Regions from separate parts of the Homo sapiens genome. Here region 2 is linked to region 1. Evidence: fine-mapped expression QTL. Tissue or cell type: whole blood. Region 1 holds a variant in brackets; the other region holds the start of a gene. All regions are shown on one strand. Distances are between the middles of the regions.

Region 1 (11,174 bases):
ACAGGAAAATAACATTTCTTTCTTCTTTCTTTTTTTTTTTTTTGAGACAGAGTCTCCCTCTGTCGCCCACACTGGAGTGCAATGGCGGGATCTCAGCTCACTGCAACCTCCGCCTCCCGGATTCAAGCAATTCTACTGCCTCAGCCTCCTGAGTAGCTGGGAATACAGGTGCATGCCACCACGCCCGGCTAATTTTGGTATTTTTAGTAGAGACGGAGTTTCACCATGTTGATCAGGCTGGTCTCGAACTCCTGACCTCGTGATCTGCCCACCTCGGCCTCCCAAAGTGCTGGGATTACAGGCGTGAGCCACCACGCTCGGCCTAGGAAGATGACATTTCTAGGCCCTCCCAGCATCTGGGTGGAGTCACACACCTAGTGTTGCTAATGGAACATGGCCAGAGTTGAGGCCATTGGCAGGCCTGCCCACAGAAGGGCTGTGTGACAGCTCCTGCTGTCTCTTTCCTCAGTTTGTGTGACTGGAAGCCAAGGAGTCCAAGCTGGTGACACTGCACAGCAGAAGGAGCCTGTGTCCTTGAGTTTACCGCTCAGCGGAAAACCATCTTGGTTCAGGGAAAACCCATGAACCAAGAACATCCACGTCAGACATTTCACAGACGAGAAATAAACATTTACTCTGGTAAGTTCCTGAGATTTTGAGGTTGATTCTTTCAGCAATGATTGAGAATCTGGGCTCCAAATTCAGTTTAACTCATTTTTTTTCCTGTGGTCAGCTAAGAAATAGAGTTCATTTATGCCCTTTCAGAAAGAGCCAAATTGCCACATGGATTAGCATCTCATCTAGGGTTGCCAGACTTAGCAAATAAAAATACAAGACAGGCCAGGTGCAGTGGCTCACACCTGTAATCCCCACACTTTGGGAGGCTGAAGTGGGCAGATCACTTGAGGCCAGGGGTTCGAGACCAGTCTGGCCAACACAGTGAAACCCCCATTTCTACTAAAAAACACAAAAATTAGCCAGGCGTGGTGGTGCACGTCTGTAATCCCAGCTACTCAGGAGGCTGAGGCAGGAGAATTGCTTGAACTCAGGAGGTGGAGGATGCAGTGAGCTGAGATTGTGACACTGCACTCCAGCCTGGGTGACAGAACGAGAGCCTGTCTCAAAAAAACGAAAACAAACAACAACAACAAAAATATAAGCCACCTAGTTCAACATGAATTCAGATAAGCCACAAATACTTTTTTAGAATAAATAGGTTTTGTGCAATTATTTGGGACATTACTGATAACAAGAAATAACTCATTGCTTACCTGAAATTCAAACATAACCAGGGGTCTGGCATCTTACTTGGCCAGCCAAGTTTCATGCTATCACATCCACATCTTGACTCTGCTCAGAAAGAGCTGCCCAACTTCTCCACCAATCAACTTCCTTCCATTCCTCAAGTCTTGGCCCTCATTCCACTTTCTCCAGGAAGACTTCCCTTCCAGCCTCGCCTTTCTAGCTCTCTGGTAGTCCTTATCACACTGCACTTGTCTTATGGTGATGCCAGTCTTGCTCTTCTTGTATTATTATTGTTGTTATTAATATTAGAGATAGAGCCTTGTTCTGTCTTCCAGGCTGGAATGCAGTGGTACAATCACAGCTCACTGCAGCCTCGACCTGGGTTCAAGCGATCCCCCCCGCTTCAGTCTCCTGAAGCTGGGACCACAGGTGTGCACCACCATGCCTGGCTGATTTTTTATTTCTTGTAGAGACAGAGTCTCCCTATGTTGCCCAGGCTGGTCTCAAACTCCTGGGTTCAAATAATCTTCTTTGAGCCTCAGCCTCCCAAATTGCTGGGATTACAGGTGTGAGCCATTGTGCCCAGCCCTGGCTCTTCTTGTTTTTGTTTGTTTGTTTTTTGAGATGGAGTTTTGCTCTTGTCACTGGAGTGCAATGGTGTGATATCGGCTCACTGCAACCTCCGCCCCCTGGGTTCAAGCAATTCTCCTGCCTTAGCCTCCCAAGTAGCTGGGATTACAGGCGCCCGTCACCACGCTCGGCTAATTTTTTTGTACTTTTAGTAGAGATGAGGTTTTGCCATGTTGGCCAGGCAGGTCTCAAACTCCTGACCTCAGGTGATCCACCTGCCTCGGCCTCCCAAAGTGCTGGGTGTGAGCCACCACACCCGGCCCTGGCTCTTCTTTCAGAGGTTGATTCTTGAAGGTGAAGACAGACTCTTTGTTCGCTGCTCCTCCCCTGTATCATTCATTCATTCAGCAAACATCCACAGAGGATCTCCTCCACGCCTGGCACACAGCAGGCATGGACACTGCTCTTGGGGACCTTCCAGTTTTGTAGGAAAGGATGCTATTCAAAAACCATATGAACGAATATTGTCAATACCTGGAAGGAATGTTACAGAGTGCTGAGAGAATTTGTCAGGAAGGGCCTGCTTTTATTTGTTGATATTTATTTACTTATGGTAGACATGGGGTCTTGCTATGTTGCCCAGAATGGTCTTGAACTCCTGGGTTCAAACGATCTTCCCACCTCGACCTCCCAAAGTGCCTGGCCTGATTTTTAGTTTTAATCCTTTATTTTTATTTTTATTTTTTTAGAGACAGGGTCTCATTCTGCTGCCCAGGCTGGAGTGAAATGGTGCAATCATAGCTCACTGCAGTGTCGAATTCCTGGGCTGGAGCAATCTTCCCATCTGAGTCTCGAGTAGCTGGAATTACAAACATGTGCCACTACGCATAGCTTTATTTACTGATTTTCTTTTTTATTTACTGATTTTCTTTTCTTTTTTCTTTTTCGAGACAGAGTCTTGCTCTGTCACCCAGGCTGGAGTGCAGTGGCGCGATCGCAGCTCACGGCAAACTCTGCCTCCCAGGTTCAAGCAATTCTGCCTCAGCCTCCTGAGTAGCTGGGATTACAGGCATCTACCACCACAGCCGGCTAATTTTTGTATCCTTTTTTTTTTTTTTTGGAGATGGAGTCTTGCTCTGTCACCCAGGCTGGAGTGCAGTGGCACAATCTCGGCTCACTGCAAGCTCCGCCTCCCGGGTTCATGCCATTCTCTCGCCTCAGCCTCCGGAGCAGCTGGGACTAAGGGCGCCCGCCACCACGCCCGGCTAATTTTTTTGTTCGTTTGTTTTTTAGCAGAGACGGGGTTTCACCGTGTTGGCCAGGATGGTCTCAAACTCCTGACCTCGTGATCCGCCCACCTTGGCCTCCCACAGTGCTGGGATTACAGGCGTGAGCCACCACACCTGGCCTATTTATTGATTTTTTACAACCACTTTATTGAAGTATGAGTGACATACAAATATGCGCATATTTAGTGTATACAGCTTGATGAGTTTGGGGATAAGTATGCACCCGTGAAACCATCACCAAAATCTATGTTAGAAACATACCCATGACCTCCAAAGGATTTCTCCTGCCATCTTTATTATTATTATTATTATTTTATTTATTTATTTATTTTTTTGAGACGGAGTCTTGGTCTGTCGCCCAGGCTGGAGTGCAGTGGTGCCATCTCGGCTCACTGCAAGCTCCTCCTCCCGGGTTCACATCATTCTCCTGCCTCAGCCTCCCGAGTAGCTGGGACTACAGCCACCCGCCAACATGCCCAGCTAATTTTTTTGTATTTTTAGTAGAGACAGGGTTTCACTGTGTTAGCCAGGATGGTCTTGATCTGCTGACCTCGTGATCCGCCTGCCTCGGCCTCCAAAAGTGCTGGGATTACAGGCGTGAGCCACCGCGCCCGACGTATTTTTTATTATTATTGTGATAAAAATACTGCAATGATCAGAATGTTTGTGTTCACAGGTGGAACAATTCATAGGTGGAAACCCTAACTCCCAAGGTGACGGTATTAAGAGGTGGAGCCTTTGGGAGGTGATGAGGTCATGAGAGTGAGGCCCCCATGAATGGGATTCGTGCTTTTTTTTTTTTTTTTTTTTTTTTTTTGAGACAAAGTCTTGCTGTGTCGCCCAGGCTGGAGTGCAATGGTGCAATCTCAGCTCACTGCAACCTCTGCCTCCCGGGTTCAAGCGATTCTCCTGCCTTAGCCTTCCGAGTAGCTGGGACTACAGGCGTGCATCACCGTGCCCAGCTAATTTTTGTATTTTTAGTAGAGATGGAGTTTCACTATATTGGCCAGACTGGTCTCAAACTCTTGACCTCATGATCCGCCCGCCTCGGCCTCCCAAAGTGCTGAGATTACGGGCGTGAGCCCCTGTGCCCTGCCAGGTTTGCTGTTTTTAGATGCCACATATGAGTGAGATCTTACAGTGTTTGTCTCTCTGAGCCTGGCTTGTCTCACCCTAACATCACGTCCTGCAGCTTCATCCACGTTGGCACAAGTGACGTGACAGGATTTCAGGAAGGATTTTTAGAGTGGAATCAGCGATGGTTCCTGTCCAGGGAGAGACATTCAGGCTGTGGCAAGAAGGGCGAATAGGAATCAAACTCATGACAAGTTGAGAAAAGAAATTTCCAGGAAGACACTGAGGTGGAAGGAAATCGGCTTGGTCCGTTTTGTTTGAGGAACTGAAAGGAGGCCTGGGGCGTGAAGAGAGGGTGAGTGAGAGGCGTCTGCGGTGACAGACTGGGCTGTCCCTCTGGCCTCCTTGGCAGTTCTACCCTGAGAAGTAAGAGGCAGGGAGGGGCACAAGCTAATCTGTTTCTAGCTTTCCCAGGCTGCTCTGTGAGAGTCACAGAAAGGGAAGTACAAAAGTAGAAGTAGGCTGGGCACGGTGGCTCACGCCTGTAATCCCAGCACTTTGGGAGGCTGAAGCGGGCGGATCACTTTAGGTCAGGAGTTAAAGACCAGCCTGGCCAACATTGTGACCCCCACCTCTACTAAAAAAAAAAACAAAAATTAGCTGGGCGTGGTGGCAGGTGCTTGTAGTCCCAGCTACTCAGGAGGCTGAGGCAGAAGAGTCGCTTAAACTCAGGAGGTGGAGGTTGCAGTGAGCCGAAATCACACCCCCTACACTCCAGCCTGGTGACAAAGTGAGACTCTGTCTCAAAAACAAAAACAAAAACAAAAGAAAACAAAAAAGTAGGGCCGGGTGTTGTGGCTCACGCCTGTACTCCCAGCACTTTGGGAGGCCGAGGAGGGCAGATTACCTGAGGTCGGGAGTTGGAGACCAGTCTGACCAACATGAAGAAACCACATCTCTACTAAAAACACAAAATTAGCCGGGTGTGGTGGCACATGCCTGGAATCCCAGCTACTCGGGAGGCTGAGGCAGGAGAATCGCTTGAACCCAGGAGGCGGAGGTTGCGGTGAGCTGAGATCACGCC[G/A]TTGTACTCCAGCCTGGGTAACAAGAGCAAAACTCTGTCTCAAAAAAAAAAAAAAAAAAAAAAAGTGGAAGTAGCAAGGCCAGTGATGAGGCCATCCCAGTAACTCAGCCAAGGGAAACATGGCAGAGCCCATGTCTGAAAGGTGCTCCCGCATTTCCACTCCCACCTGTTCTTCCAGAACTTTACCACTCCCATCAAGAGGTGGAGTCTACTTCCCTCACCTTGAACCCGGGCGAGACTTTGACTGCCTTGACAAATGGATGTGGCAAAGCGACGTTGCATGACTTTTTTTTTTTTTTTTGAGATGAGTTTCACGCAGTCTCAGCTCACTGCAACCTCTGCCTCTGGGTTCAAGTGATTCTCCTGCCTCAGCCTCCCGAGGAGCTAGGATTACAGGCAGGAAAACAACAGACCACACCATGGTTCCACTGGGGCTTGAACCCAGGACCTTCTGCGTGTAAAGCAGATGTGATAACCACTACACTATGGAACCACAGGCTAGCTGAGTTTCAAAGCTAGACTATGAGGCCATGAGGCTGGGCACAGTGGCTCACACATGTAATCCGAGCACTTTGGGAGGCCAAGGTGGGTAGATCACCTGAGGTCAGGAGTTCGAGACCAGCCTGGGCAACATGGCAAAACTCCGTCTCTACTAAAAATACAAAAAAAATTAGCCAAGCGTGGTGGCATGTGTCTGTAGTTCCAGCTACTTGGAAGGTTGAGGCAGGAGAATTGCTTGAACCAGGGAGGCAGAGGTTGCAGTGAGCTGAGGTCGTGCCACTGCACTCTAGCCCGGGCAACAGAGCGAGACCCTGTCTCAAAAAAATAAATAAATAAATAAATACATAAATAAAGTTAGGCTATGACAGGCAATATGGCCTTGCCTGGCGCTCCCTCCCTCTCTCTCAGCTCACACCAGCCCACATGGAGAGACCGAGGGAGAGGCCCATGTGAGGAGGAACTGAGGTCGTCAGCCAGCAGCATCTGCCAGACATGGGTGATTTCAGCCTTCAAATCTTCCAGCTGCAATCCCCAGTCCCTGGGAGCAGAGACAAGCCATCGCTGCTGGACCCTGTCTGAATTCCTATACATAGAATCCATGAGCATAACAAAGGGCTGCTTTACACGGCTAGATTTGGGGGTAATTTGCTGTGCAGCCACAGTACCTGGAACAAGAGGACAATGGCTGGAGTTGCCTAGTGGCTGTCGGTGGGCTTGTTGAAAGTGGACCTATTTGAGATGCTGAATAGAAATTGAATTAACAAGATGTAGTCATGAAAGGGACAGAAAATGTCTTAATTATAAAAAAATTATAAAGACCCAGCCAGGCGTGATGGCTCATGCCTGTAATGCACTTTGGGAGGCGGAAGCGGGCGGATCACCTGAGGTAGGGAGTTTGAGATCAGCCTGACCAACATGGTGAAACCCCGTCTCTACTGAAAATACAAAATCAGCTGTGCGTGGTGGCGGGCACCTGTAATCCCAGCTACTCAGGAGGCTGAGGCACGAGAATTGCTTGAACCCAGGAGGCAGAGGTTGCAGTGAGCCGAGATTGTGTCATTGCACTCCAACCTGGGCAACAAGAGTGAAACTCCGTCTCAAAAAAAAAAAAAATAAATAAACAAATATAAAGATACAAACCAGGCACGGTGGCTTACGCCTGTAATTCCAGCACTTTGGAAGCTGAGGTGGGTGGATTGCTTGAAGCCAGGAGTTTGAGACCAGCCTGTCCAACATGGTGAAACCCCGTCTCTACTAAAAATACAAAAATTAGCCAGGTGTGGTGGCACACACCTGAGTGTGTGTGTACCAGCTTCTCAGGAGGCGGAGGCATGAGAATGGCTTGAACCCAGGAGGCGGAGGTTGCAGTGAACCGAGGTCATGCCACTGCACTTCCATCCCCAGGGAGGGAAGGAGCAAAAGAAAACTAGGAAAAGGGGCTAAAAATGGTGCTTGTCTCACTGCTTTCTTCAGTTGAGCTCTTCTTGGTCTTGTGCTGGTAACTTGATGATTTTCATTCGCCTTTGACGACTCAGCCCATTAAGCCAAAGAGGCTCACCTGGTGCTACTCAGCCTGGGTGACAGAGGGAGACTATGTCTCAAAAAAAACAAAAAACAAAAAATACAAATAAAGATATGAAGGAAGGCCCAGTTAGAATACATTTTTGAAAATACTTCTTTACATTTTTAATGACGCATGCATTTCATATTGAGAGCTTCATTCTTTCGGTTTAATAATTTGATCCTTGTTAAAATGCAGACAATTGGCTGGGCATGGTGGCTCATATCTTTGGGAGGCTGAGGTGAGCAGATCACTTGAGCCCAGGAGTTTGAGACCAGCCTGGGCAACATGGTGAAACCCTGTCTCTACTAAAAAAAATACAAAAAAATAATTAGCTAGGTGTGGTGGTGCCTGCCTGTGGTCCCAGCTACTTGGGAGCCTGAGGTAGGAAGATCGCTTGAACTCAGGAGTCAGAGGCTGCAGTAAGCCGGGATCACACCCCTGCACTCCAGCCTGACAGTGAAATCCTGTCTCAAAAAAAAAAAAATGCAGACAACTCAAGGATTGATAAAATTTGAAATTTTTTCATTAACACCTTAGCATGAATGAAGACTGAAACCTAGTTTTCTTTTTGATAAAGACAATGGAGGCGTCCAAGGGCTAAGGACATACATCCCCAGGGAGGGAAAGAGAAAGAGAAAAAGTAGGAAAAGGGGCTAAAAATGGTGTTTGTCTCACTGCTTTCTTCAGTTGAGCTCTTCTTGGTCTTGTGCTGCTAACTTGATGATTTTCATTCGCCTTTGACGACTCAGCCCATTAAGCCAAAGAGGCTCACCTGGTGCGACTGTTACTCACAATGGCTCACACGTGTTGGGTGCACGTGCTGGGCCAAGCATCATGCACGCTGTAAGGTATATAGATGTGATTTGGTCAAGGTAGAGACCGAGGCGGATATACAGGCCTGCACGGCTCAGTGAGTTTGGTGCGCAGGCGCACACCTCCGCTTGTTACATAACCTGTTTGTGTAAGTTCATACTTGGCTCTGAGCCACTATTGTCTGTAAAAGGTATAACTGCCCTGCTGACGCCGTACAGGTGCTTTTGAGGCTCAGCTTGGCTCGACATGGCTTGATGTGGTGGGTGCGCTGGCGCCCAGAGAAAGGGAGACAGCCAAAGCTGTCCATCTTGTAGACAGACAGGAGGGAGCCAGGACACAGCTCTGCTTGCTTGTGCCAGAGAAAGAAAGAGTTAAGCTGCTGACCCTGAAGGCAAGGGAGAGCCGGGGGTCACAGGAGCCACAGAGCCAAAGCAAATAGCAGAGATAAAGGTGGACAGGGTGAGAGAGCTAATGTGAGTAAGCTGCTAATAAAAAGCCATTGATGAGAACTGCTGCTGAATAAAACCATATTCACCTGCCTAGGCCCCCTGCACCAAAGCGTTTCTGCTCATCCACCCCACTCACCTTGGACTTCAGCATGGGCTGGACCTGGACCGGGGTCTGACACACACCAACTCGGTTAATCCTCACAGTAAACCTGGGAAGGAGGTGCCATTTTGCCCATCGTTTACCAGGACACTGAGAGGCAGGGAGTGTGACCTGCATGAGGTCACTTGGAGCATCACTGTAGGGGACTAACACCCTACACGGCTATGCGGCCTTGTTCTCTGCTCCGAATGCCATCTTCACAGATTGTTCTCATGTCCCTTACAACTGCGTATCTATAAATAAGTGGATTTGCTCTCTGGTCTCTAAGACTTTAAAAGCTAAGGTTAAGGAGTGTGTGTGTTAGGGGAAGGGTGGGGACAGCAGCAAAGACTTGCACAGATAATTGTCCCCAAATAGTCTCAATGAAGGCACCTCTGATAAGGGCATATGGCAAAGCCCTGAACCATCCCTAAATTTCAATTTTCTTCTAGCAGTCATATGACTGATCTATGGTCAGGAGGATGTGAACAGAAATGATCTACATGCCTTCTGAAAAAAAGGGGGCATGCATAGCCTCCCTTTCATTCTTTTTTCTTTTATATATTTTTTTTATTTTATTTTTTTCGAGACAGGGTCTCACTCTGTCTCCCAGGCTGGAGTGCAGAGATGCAATCTCAGCTCACTGTAATCTCTGCCTCCCGGGTTCAGGCGATTCTCCTGCCTCAACCTCCCAAGTAGCTGGGAGTACAGGTGTGTGCCACCATGCCCAGCTAATTTTTGTTTGTTTGTTTTGAGATGGAGTTTCGCTCTTGTTGCCCAGGCTGGAGTGCAATGGCACGATCTCGGCTCACTGCAACCTCCGCCTCCCAGGTTCAGGAGATTCTCCTGCCTCAGCCTCCCGAGTAGCTGGGACTACAGGCATGTGCCACCATGCCCGGCTAATTTTGTATTTTTAGTAGAGATGGGGTTTTTCCATGTTGGTCAGGCTGCTCTCCAAGTCCCGACCTCAGCTGATCCACCCATCTCACCCTCCCAGAGTGCTGGGATTACAGGCAGGAGCCACGGTGCCCAGCCTAATTTTTGTATTTTTAGTAGAGGCAGGGTTTCACCATGTTGGCCAGGCTGGTCTCGAACTTCTGGCCTCAAGTGATCCACCTGCCTCAGCCTCCCAGAGTGCTGGGATTACAGGTGTGAGCCACTGCGCCTGGCCCTCCCCTTCATTCCTGTTCCCCTCCACAGGTTGGGGAGCAATCTTGGACCACATGGAAAAGGGCAACCTACTCAGGACAGCAGAACAACCAGCAGAAGGAACCGGGGGGCTGACACCTGGGGCTGGTTGAGCTCATCTGTACTTGGCTATGCCCAGACTCTTATGCGGGAAAGAAAATAAACTTTGGTTTAGTCCACTGTTATTTTTTGGTCTTTATTTAGAGACAGGGTCTCACTCAGTCACCTAGGCTGGAGTGCAGTGGTGTGATCATAGCTCACTGCAGCTGTGAACTCCTGGGCTCAAGGCATCCTCCAGCCTCAGCCTCCCAAAGTGCTGGGATTACAGGTGTGAGCCACCCCACCTCCATCTAATATTAAATCACAAAATGGAATTATCTAAGTCTGTATCAGCTGGAAGAGAGGAAAGGATGTGGTAGACCCAAGGCTCTGTGTTCAAGGGACAGGACGAGCCACAAGCTGGATTTTGTTCCTACGTCTTTTGCGTTCATTTACCTTTTAGCTAATCGTGGATTTTCAGCAACACTGGGAAAAATAAAGACCATGCATGTTGTAGGCTGGCACAGGTGGAAGCTCTAGAACTCTGAGAGCTGCTTTAAAGGTACCACATACTGTAATCTAAATAGAAACACCCTATCATATCCAAGGAATCTGTGCCATCCCACTCCCAGCATTGTAGTGAGTGCCTGTGTATGCCTGTATCTACTCACAAGAGCTCTTTTTTTTTAAAGGAGCTATAAAGGAGATTATTTCTGCTGTGCTGTAGTCTGTTTTTTTTTTTACTTGTAAATGTATAACCCAAATTTTGTCATTATTTGAAATTATGTGTAGAGCTAATTTACCCAATATAAAAATGACTCTTACAAATCAACAAGACAAAACAATGGTCAAAAGATGAAGCAAGAACTGGTTTCATTAATGGCCCCAATCAATGGCCTCTGTGTCCAGTCTGTGGGTTCTGCCCCCTACACTAATTCTGGGCATGACCATGCCTTGCTTTGGCCAATGGGATGGAAGCATCTACACAAACAGAGCGGAGACTGGAAAGCACATTTAAGTCTCTTTTCTCTCTTGAATCTCTGCCACTGTCATGAAAAATAAGCCTGGGCTAGCCGAATGGAGAGACCATGGGGAGCAGAGCCAGCTTGATCCACCCAAGGCCATCCTATACCAGCTCAGCAACTCACTGGCTGACGGGACGCAGGAGTGAGCCCAGTTGCGAGCAGCAAAGCCACCCAGATGCCCTACAGACTCCTGT
Region 2 (9,587 bases), 40 kb before region 1:
TTGTTGTTATTAAAAAAAAAAAAAAAAAAAAACTACAAATACACACACACACACACACACACAAATGTGATCAGGAGTACAAAGTATCTAATAACTAATATTAAAGTGCCTTTTCAAAACTACTTACCTAGAAACATGAGAAATTAACCAGAAAAATTTTAAATCAGTTCATTTCAATGGCAAGTATCTTACAGCAACATAATAAAAATGGCTGTTTTATGAAGAATGTTTCTTTAAATGACTCTGCCCCTCTAATGCATCTCATTAAAAACTGTCAGCCAGGCGCGGTGGCTCATGCCTATAATCCCAGCACTTTGGGAGGCCTAGGCGGGTGGATCACCTGAGGTTAGGAGTTCGAGACCAGCCTGATCAATATGGTGAAACCCCATCTCTACTAAAAATACAAATATTAGCTGGGCATGGTGGCAGGCACCTGTAATCCCAGCTACCCGGGAGGCTGAGACAGGAGAACTGCTTGAACCTGGGAAGCAGAGGTTGCGGTGAGCCGAGATCACATCACTGTACTCCAGCCTGGGCAACAGAGTGAGACTCCATCTCAAAAAAAAACAAAAAAAAAAACTGTCAAAAGATACCTTCTCTTGAAATGTGGCTAATTATATCACTCTCCTGCTCAAAGTCCTCTCTCACTGCCTTGAAGATAATTTTCACATTTCTTAGCCTAGAATCTCTCTCCAAAGCTTCTGTTTCAAGCAAAACAAACCACTCCCCATTCCCTACATACATCCTTGACTTAGCATTGACTTACACTGACTGCTCTCTGCCTAAAAAATCATTCCTCCATTCAAACCTTGCCAATATTTTTTTAAAGCCAGCTAAATATCTCCTTCTTTACGAAGGTTTTCCTGATTCCCTGACTGAACTCATATAAGTGCACCTCTTAGGGGACTTAATGCTTTCTCATACTAATTCTTATTAGTTACTCTCCAACACGAGAACAAGCTACTTATAGACAGGTTCTGTGTTTACCTTTTTACTGCCCATAACTGATCACAATAGTCACTGGGTTTAAATAACTGAAACTGAAACTATTACTCCAGTAAGAGTCTCCAATCAGGTACCATGGGAGGGAAGACAGAGGTAATTGCAGTGTATCACGCATGTGAACATCTACCAGTGGTCTTTAAAAACCAATGTCACACTATTGTCATCTCTACATGCTAAAATATGTCTAATTTCACTTATATTTTCTTTTGGCCAGGATGCTTAACGCTGGTTTAAACTGCCTACAACACAGCTCCCAAGTGTAACAGCATTTGCAAATATTGATCCTATGCTCACTACTGTAGTGAATAGAAAGTCCTTTGTCTACAGAACTCTAACACAGCTATAAGCAAGAACTCTCAAAGAGCAAATCAAAGATTAAGCAAATCCAAGAGGCAATCTGAATTTTAGTTCAGAATTTTAAAATCAAGTATAAAACCTTCTCTGAATCTGAAATCACAAAATTCTGATAAAGAGAAATGAGGAAAAGTATCTGGGATGTAAAGCAAGTTTTTAAACATATGATGCTGAGAATCATCTGGTATACATCACTAAAGTATATATTTCTATTCATAAATTCTTACTGTGTAGAACAAAAAATGGGAAGAAAAAAACCTCTGGGAAGCACAAACAGCTGTGGAACTAGTTACTCTTATTGTTTTAATCTACTATGTCTAACAAGACTCGTGAATTTATTTCCAAGTCCATAGTGAACTATGTGCAAATTATGTGGTGAGAGGCTGCCTACACATGCTGAAAGCAGAGAAAAGTAAATGTTGCCAGCCTAACAGTAAAGTAAGATAGAGGGAAAAAATATGAAGAGTAAACTGAAGAGCTCAAAAAGCATAGCAGCCTGAGAGTAAAGGGGGCAAAAGTTCCTACAAAGCTGGCGGGGTCTTCATGGCTTCACCATGTTACAGCATAACACAATAGTTAATCTTCACTATGTGAAAACTTGGTTATCAAGTAAATTATGTTTCTTAGTTTGTTAAAGAAGTTGTGACAGCATTTAGAAAGGCATTATCCAAAAGCTGTGCTCTTTAGAGATAACCTTTAGTTCCTCAGAAAATTCAATTGTGTGGAATATTCCATTTCTTTTACACACAGAATGAAGATTTTACTCCTTTATACCAAATCGTTTTGTATCTTCTTGATTAAGATAACTATCAATATTTGTGATTATGAGCTTAGACTTAACAACTCATACAAACAATGGCAGCACTAAGCAACACAGCAACTCCAGCACTTCCTTACACTTCTTTAAAAGTAACAAGTTCCTAACACTGAAAGTACTTGCCTTTTTTTAGGTTCTTAAGTCTCAGGCACTAAAGTAAATTTTAAGAAAATTAATTAACTCCAGACATTCAAAAGTTAATTCTGAGTGCTAACTTTGGTTTTCTCTTCTTCTAATTTTTAATCATCTAATTCCTGGTAACACTAAAAATAAGGATATATGATTTCTCATTATCAAAATCATCCTGTCATCACTACTCCTATCAATGATGGTAATAATGTGATTGTCCTGAATTGATATAATTATCAAAGAACATCTCAGAAAACTTAGGAAGGCTCACAGAGATTAAAGTTATCACAGCTACAAAATGACAGCAGAAACAGGTCTGATTTCTAGTTAAGTATGCATCTACCATTCATCAAAGAGTTCACAATCCGAATGAAAATTTAAACAAAGCTCATTATCTTAACTTGTTATATAAAAACACTTTCACCATCTTTGATACAAAGTGATGTGAACGAGGCTTGTGGAAGCCTGCATGATGGTGGATTTGCACTCACTCGTGCATGCTTAACTGACCTCAATTGTGAGCAAATCTGAAAGACCAGCAACAACCATAGAAAAACGGTGGAACTAACCGGCTCTTAAAACACGCTGGCAGCAACACTACCCATTCCAACAGGCAAAATCCACCACAAACTACTAAGCTCAGCTTGGAATCCCAATTAGGCACTTAAAAAAAAAAAAAAAAAAGCACAAAACCTGCAGTGGGTAGGGCCTATTCATTTAGGCATCCAACAGTCTTCCAGCTTTTCAAAGACAGACACAGGATTATTCCTGGATTGGTCAAACATAACGAAGTATTCAGAATGAATATTCTCTAATAATTGCATATAACTATAAACAGAAAAATGACAGACCAGAAAAACACGATTCTAATTCTTCACAAACCTTTCCTAAAAAATTAGCCAAATAAAAGTTCGAAGGTTTTCTCTTGCCTAGAGACATCTAAAAGTGTTATTTTGGGATGTTACCTGTAAAAAAAAAAAAAAAAATTGGTTTGACCCTGAGAGATTATAATAAATTTCAAAAAATTTGAAGTGGAAGTCTACATTAAATGACTCAGGAATTTGAAGTCAGAGTACATAGGATACACAAGATTTACATCAGTATTCATCTTAATTATGATCAAGCAGCCCAAAGTTAGAATTTCAAATTTCCCCAAAAATTGATAGTTAAAATGGTTTTCTCCAAAGTGAATTCTTTTGCAAGATGAACATTTAAAAAAAAAAAAAAAAGAACAGAAAAAGTACAAACTACAGAACCTGCCTGCGTTATCTACAGATTACCTAAAGTTCCCTTAGAAACAGATAACCAGGAAAATCAATATACCATGATATTAGGTACACCTTGCATTCATATATTACAATGCATTCTTCATGTTATTATCTTCCAACTCCCTGAAGAAAGCTTCGGAGTACAGAGAACTTGGCTTTTAGCAATCCATCACCAACCCAATTCTTAGGGGAAAACAGTCCAGAAGAGACAAAGGAGGCAGAGAACCCACCAAACAAAAGGAAAAGGCGGCGAAGGTCAGGTGCGAAAGCATTTGACGGACAAGTTTTGAAAAAACTCAATTCCAATTCTACAGATGCTCAGTAAGTGAGAAGGGAGGGTGGCTAAAAGGATTCAATAATACTTCTCATTAGCAGGGGGGAGAAAGGATTAAAAGACTAATTTCCACGTTTTCGCCAAAAATATAAGTTAATCAAGCCCTAGCAGTTCCGAAGCAGTGATTATCCAAGACTTGTCAGGAAACCCCGTACTCGGCTTTGGCAGCCAGACTGACCCGGGGCAGCGGCCGAGGCGGAATAGGAAATGCAACCGCGAGGCCTGCACCGTCCCCTCCGCCTCGGGTGCTGGTTTCCAACCGGGCGAGGTCACCGGCCCAAACCGGGGAGCGGGACCCTTGGCCCGGGCGGCCTTCTCCCCTCCCCTCCGCTTCCGCTGGGGGCAAGCGCAGAGGCCGGGCTCGGCCGTCACCCCGCCCCGAGCCTCACGGCCCGCATCTCCATTTCCCCGCCTGCCCCTCACACTGGGAGCCGCCCGCTCGCCCCGGGACGCGGGGCGCCCCTGAACCCGCCCGCGCCCCTAGCCACGACTCCCGTCCCGAAAACTACGGCTGACGGCAGAACGAGACCCCCGAGGAGCTGCGACCCGCGGGCCGTGCAGGAGCCGGGGGTGCGCCCGCCCCGGCTGCTCAGCCCCGGCCCCTCAGCCCTGGCGCCCACCGTCAGGCCGGTGCCCAGCACGATCACGTCGTACTCCTCATTCATGGCGGGGCAGGCGCGGACGCAGGACCCGAGCAAGGAAAAGGCGCAGGGGCTCCGTGACCACCCTACGAGGCTGGGAGGCGCTCTTGGGCGCGAAGGAAAGGGGAAGAGAAAGAGAGGAAAATGGAGCTGGCGACAAGGCGAGACCGACCGCCACCTCAGACGGGAAGAGAAGAACTGGGCGGGGAGAGGAGGGGAGGGAGCGAGGAGGGGAGGGCTGTGACTGAGCCTCCGCAGCCGGGGCGGGGCCTGCAGGCGCCGGGAGGGCCGCCAATCAGGCGCTCCCGGCACTCTAATTGGTTACGTCCCCGTCGCTCGCACAACTTTTTTTCCTTCCCCGCCTCTCGCGAGAGGAAAAGGGCGGGGCGTCGCCATTTTGGCTTCCGGTTCCCCTTGCGGCCTCTGCCACGGTGGTTCGGGAGGCGGCGCGCGGGCCGGGGTGGAGGTGCACGGAGCCGCGGGCGGGGACTGCTGGCCACCACCGTTCTGACTCCCGCCGTCGGGGCGGGAGCTCGCTCGGTCCAAGGTCCCAGAGCCGGATCGCCGCCCTTGGACTTTGAGCGGGCGCGTGCGGCGGCCACGTGGGCGAGGAGCGCGGGCCGGGCTGCCTCTCGGGGGTGGCGGCCTTGGTTCCTCCCGCGGGGCTGGGCTTGCCGGGGCCCGGAGCCCGCCGGGAAGAGTTCGGAAATCACACGTGTCCTTTTTCCCGCTCTGTGCCCTCCTTGTTTAGTGCGTTGCCGGTGGGCGCTTTAGGAAATTGGTAGGAGGAAAAGCGGCTTCTTTTGAAAAGGTAACCCTTAACAGAGATGAAAGTGAAAGCCAGGTTTCATTGGGAAGCCGATCTGCACCTACCGAGGGCTGTAACTTAAAGCCGCTGTAAACGTGGTAGCTGATCCTTGTATGCAAAGGTTTAGGCCCTAAGCTTAGAAACTGTTCCTTGCTTGCCTTCTACCCCGCTCCTCTTTTTCTAGAATTCTCTTAGGAATCTCTGGCTTCATTGAGGACACAGGTGTAAGCAGAAGCTGTGTTCTCAGCTCCAAGAGGCCGACCCCACGAAAGCCTAAGCAGGTGAATTTCGTAAAGACGTTGACAGTTGGAAAACCTGTGCTTTCAGCACGTGATAAATCTGCAGAGTCAGCAGACAATGAAGATTTGGCATTCAAGAACTCCTCAAATACTTCTCGATAGTAGCTATTCAGAGCCTGCCTTGATAGACCGAACTTGCTCATATTTAAATCATTAAGATAGAGGAAAGAATGTAACAACTTTTTAAAATGTTTCTTACCCCATAAATACTTGAAGAAGATATGTTATATTGGACCATGGATCTTTCTGGGGGGGAGGGGAGAAGAAAGCAAAAGTAAAGTTTAAATTTACATTCAACCTTAATTTGATTGTATATATTTGTGACCAAATGAATTAGTGCACAGTTGACCATACAACTGATTATGCAACAGTGAGTGTAACTGACTTTTCTTTTGGCTAAGCTAATGATGACTAAAGAAGGTCCTTCTGTTGCTCTGTCTTCAAGTCATCAGGGGGTCATACTACCTATATTTTTGAACCAATATGAAATAACCCTTTTTCTTTATTTTTCTGAGACAATCTCACCCTGTCGTCCAGGCTGGAGTGCAGCGGTGTAATCATGCCTCACTGCAGCCTTGATCTCCTGGGCTCAAGCCATCCTCCCACCTCAGTCTCCCCAGTAGCAGGGACAAGAGGTACAGGCCACCACACCTGACTATTGGCCCTTTTTTTTTTATTAGCAATAACAATAAAGAGCTTTTTTCACAATTGCCATCAGCCTCTGGCTCTTGAAGAGAAATTTAAGCATGTCAACTGAATTATGTTAACCATGTTTTAGGTGAAGACTATTTTATCGATACTCAAGAGTTGTGAGAAACTTGAAGACACTGAGATAAGGGAATTGAATTTAAGGCTAATAAGGATCCCTTCCTTACTTAACACTGAAGTTCATTTTAGTTCACAGTACAGGCCCTATGGCCCAACAGAAGGACAATAACAATCAAACCTGGACTAAGCCTTAACGGACTGAGTGCATCTAAAATGTTGTACCTGAGCCAGGCACAGTGCTTCACACCTGTAATCCTAACACTTTGGGAGGCTGAGATGGGAGGATCACTTGGGGCCAGGAGTGGGAGATGGGAGAATCACTTGGGACCAGCCTGTGCTGTAGAGCCTAGGTAACAGAGACACTGTCCCTATAAAAAAAATTAGCTGGAGGCCGGGCACGGTGATTGATGCCTGTAATCCCAGCACTTTGGGAGGCTGAGGTAGGCGGATCACAAGGTCAGGAGTTTGGAGTTTGAGACCAGCCTGGCCAATATGGTGAAACCCCATCTCTACTAAAAATACAAAAATTAGCCGGGCATGGTGGCACGTGCCTGTAGTCCCAGCTACCCGGGAAGCTGAGGCAGAGCAATCGCTTGAACCCGGGAGACGGAGGCTGAAGTGAGCCGAGATCGCGCCACTCCACTCCCGCCTGGGCAACAGAGTGAGACTCCGTCTCAAAAAAAAAAAAAAAAAAACTGGGCAGGCTGGGTGCAGTGGCTCACGCTTGTAATCCCAGCACTTTGGGAGGCCAAGGCGGGTGAATCACGAGGTCAGGAGTTCAAGACCAACCCGTCCCAAGATGGTGAAACCCCGTCTCTACGAAAACTACAAAAATTAGTTGGGCGTGGTGTCAGGCGTCTGTAATCCCAGCTACTCAGGAGTCTGAGGCAGAGAATTGCTTGAACCCAGGAGGCAGAGGTTGCAGTGAGCCAAGATCGTGCCACTGCACTCCAGCTTGGGTGACAAAGCGAGACTCAGTCTCAAAAAAAAAATCAGCTGGGCATGGTGGCATGAGCCTGCAGTCCTGGCTACTCAGGAGGCTGAGCTGGGAGGATCACTTGAGCCCAGGAAGGTCAAGCCATGATGATGCCACTGCACTCTAGCCTGGGCAACAGAGCAAAACCCTGTCTCAAAAAAAGAAAATTCTGTGCTTTTCTTGGATCTTCCACCCCACCCATTCCAGTTGCAAGGGAACTTGTAGATGACAAATACTGCTTAAGGTGAAGAGGCTTGAAAGCCACTAATTGGTTGAGTTGATCTCATGCCACAGATGGTAGTTCCTGCTACAGTGAAACCTTAGGTTTAGGGGAAGTAGGTTGGTTGGTGAAGATGAGTGGTAAACATCAATCTTTATTTTTAATTTTATTTTTTGGTGCCAAAACCCAAGATCAAACCAGGACACCATCAATCTTTAAAATATTTCAAATCTTGAAATCAGCCAGGTGTGGTGGCACATGCCTGTAGTCCCAGCTACTCGGGAGACAGGCAGGAGAATCAGTGGAACCCGAGAGGCTGAGGTTGCAGTCAGCCAAGATCGCGCCACTACACTCCAGCCTGAGTGACAGAGCCAGACTCCGTCTCAAAAAAAAAATAAAATAAAATATTTCAAACCTTTATGCAAAGCAGGAATCCATGGAGTCTTATTTATACTTGGGTACATGGGAATAATTGTTTGCTGATCTGTTTTTACTAAGCATCCATCTGCCCTTTGAAAAGGAGAGATTTAATCTAAGGAAAGAAAATGAGAGCGAACCTCAGCCCAGACCATCTTTTTCTCTCCTGCATCACTGTGGCAGTTTCTCAACAGGCTTTTTTCCCTCTCTTTTTCCTCTTCTCCTATCTGTTCTGTCCATTATCTTCTAAAAACACGCATCAGATCATGTTCAGGCTTCTGTATATCTTTTGTACTTAGAATACATTGTAGATCCTAGCCAGGCATGGTGGCTAACGCCTGTAATCCCAGTGCTTTGGGAGGCTGAGGCAGATCACCTGAGGTCAGGAGTTCGAGACCAGCCTGACCAACATGGTGAAACCCCGTCTCTACTAAAAATACAAAAATTAGCCTGGTGTGGTGGTGCACATCTGTAATTCCAGCTACTCAGGAGGCTGAGGCAGGAGAATTGCTGGAACCTGGGAGGCAGAGGTTGCAGTGAGCCAAGATGGCGCCACTGCACTCCAGCCCGGGAGACAGAGCAAGACTCCATCTCAAAAAAAAAAAAAAAAAAAAAAGGGATACATTGTAAATCCTTAAATATGACCTAATACCTTAATCTAGCCTCTGTATGTCTCTCCAACTCTATTTTTTAGTGCTCCTTGGCTCCTTGATCATTAAACCCCAAACATGCATGTGTTTCGGTTCCTAGAATCTGGTCAAGCTTTCAACCACCCGAGGGCCTTTGTACTCTTGGTTCCATGGCTACCACCCCTCACTTCCCCCTGCACTTCTTCATACAGCTAACTTTTTCCACTTCCTTAGGTCTCAGCTTTCCCCTCAACCATCATTCTCTATCAGTACCCTGCTTGTTTCTCACTGCTCTTATTAGAGGGGGTAATTATTTTCTTCACTTGTTCTTTGCTTTTCAAATTGGATGTAAACTCCATAGGGGCAGGGATATGAAGCCTGGACAGCCAGTAAAGGGCTGAGCAACTAGTAGAGGATGAGTAAATATTTGACAAATGAATAGGGGACTTGGAAGTTGAGCCCTAGATCAACAAGGACTGAATATGATGATATTGGTACTAGTTTCCTTTTTTCTTTTTTAAGACAGGGTCTCACTCTGTTGCCCAGGCCAGAGTGCAGTGGCACAACCATAGCTCTGTGCAGCCTCAGCCTCCCGGGCTGAAGTGATCCTCCCTCCGCAGCCTCCTGAGTAGCTAGGAGTACAGGCATGTGCCCACCATGCTCAGCTAATTTTTGTATTTTTGGTAGAGATGGAGTGTCACCTTGTTGCCCAGACTAGTCTTGAATTCCTGGGCTCAAGCAGTCTGCCCACCACAACCTCCGTAGGTGCTGTGGTTACTGGTGTGAGCCACCACGCCAGGCCCCAGTTCCTCTTGATACTTTGGAGAAATACAACTTTTCTTCTAGGAAGAGATATTAAAACTAATATTTTAAAGAGTCTTAGAGATAGGTATCTATAAAACATAAACCTGTGTAAAACCTG

The links. PIP is the estimated chance that this variant, and not a neighbour inherited with it, causes the effect.
Region 2: GDI2 starts here. The variant in region 1 is fine-mapped to the expression of GDI2 in whole blood (TOPMed, PIP above 0.99).

Annotation. Positions count from the first base shown.
Region 1 is chr10:5,848,029-5,859,202 of GRCh38, forward strand. TRV-TAC3-1 (tRNA-Val (anticodon TAC) 3-1) reads right to left here and starts at 5,755; the gene lies at 5,683-5,755. RefSeq lists enhancers at 4,274-4,323, 4,454-4,543, 4,638-4,807, 5,064-5,123, a cis regulatory region at 4,723 and a silencer at 5,604-5,804. The variant G/A (reference allele first, on the strand shown) is at 5,263.
Region 2 is chr10:5,808,687-5,818,273 of GRCh38, forward strand. GDI2 (GDP dissociation inhibitor 2) reads right to left here and starts at 4,748. Exons shown (of 11, transcript NM_001494.4): 1 at 4,528-4,748. The coding sequence starts at 4,572. LOC124902367 (a long non-coding RNA gene) reads right to left here and starts at 4,511. Exons shown (of 2, transcript XR_007062041.1): 1 at 3,629-4,511; 2 at 1-3,270. RefSeq lists silencers at 4,029-4,568, 4,709-4,978, 5,039-5,218 and enhancers at 4,170-4,762, 4,763-5,355, 5,419-5,518, 8,879-8,948, 8,969-9,088.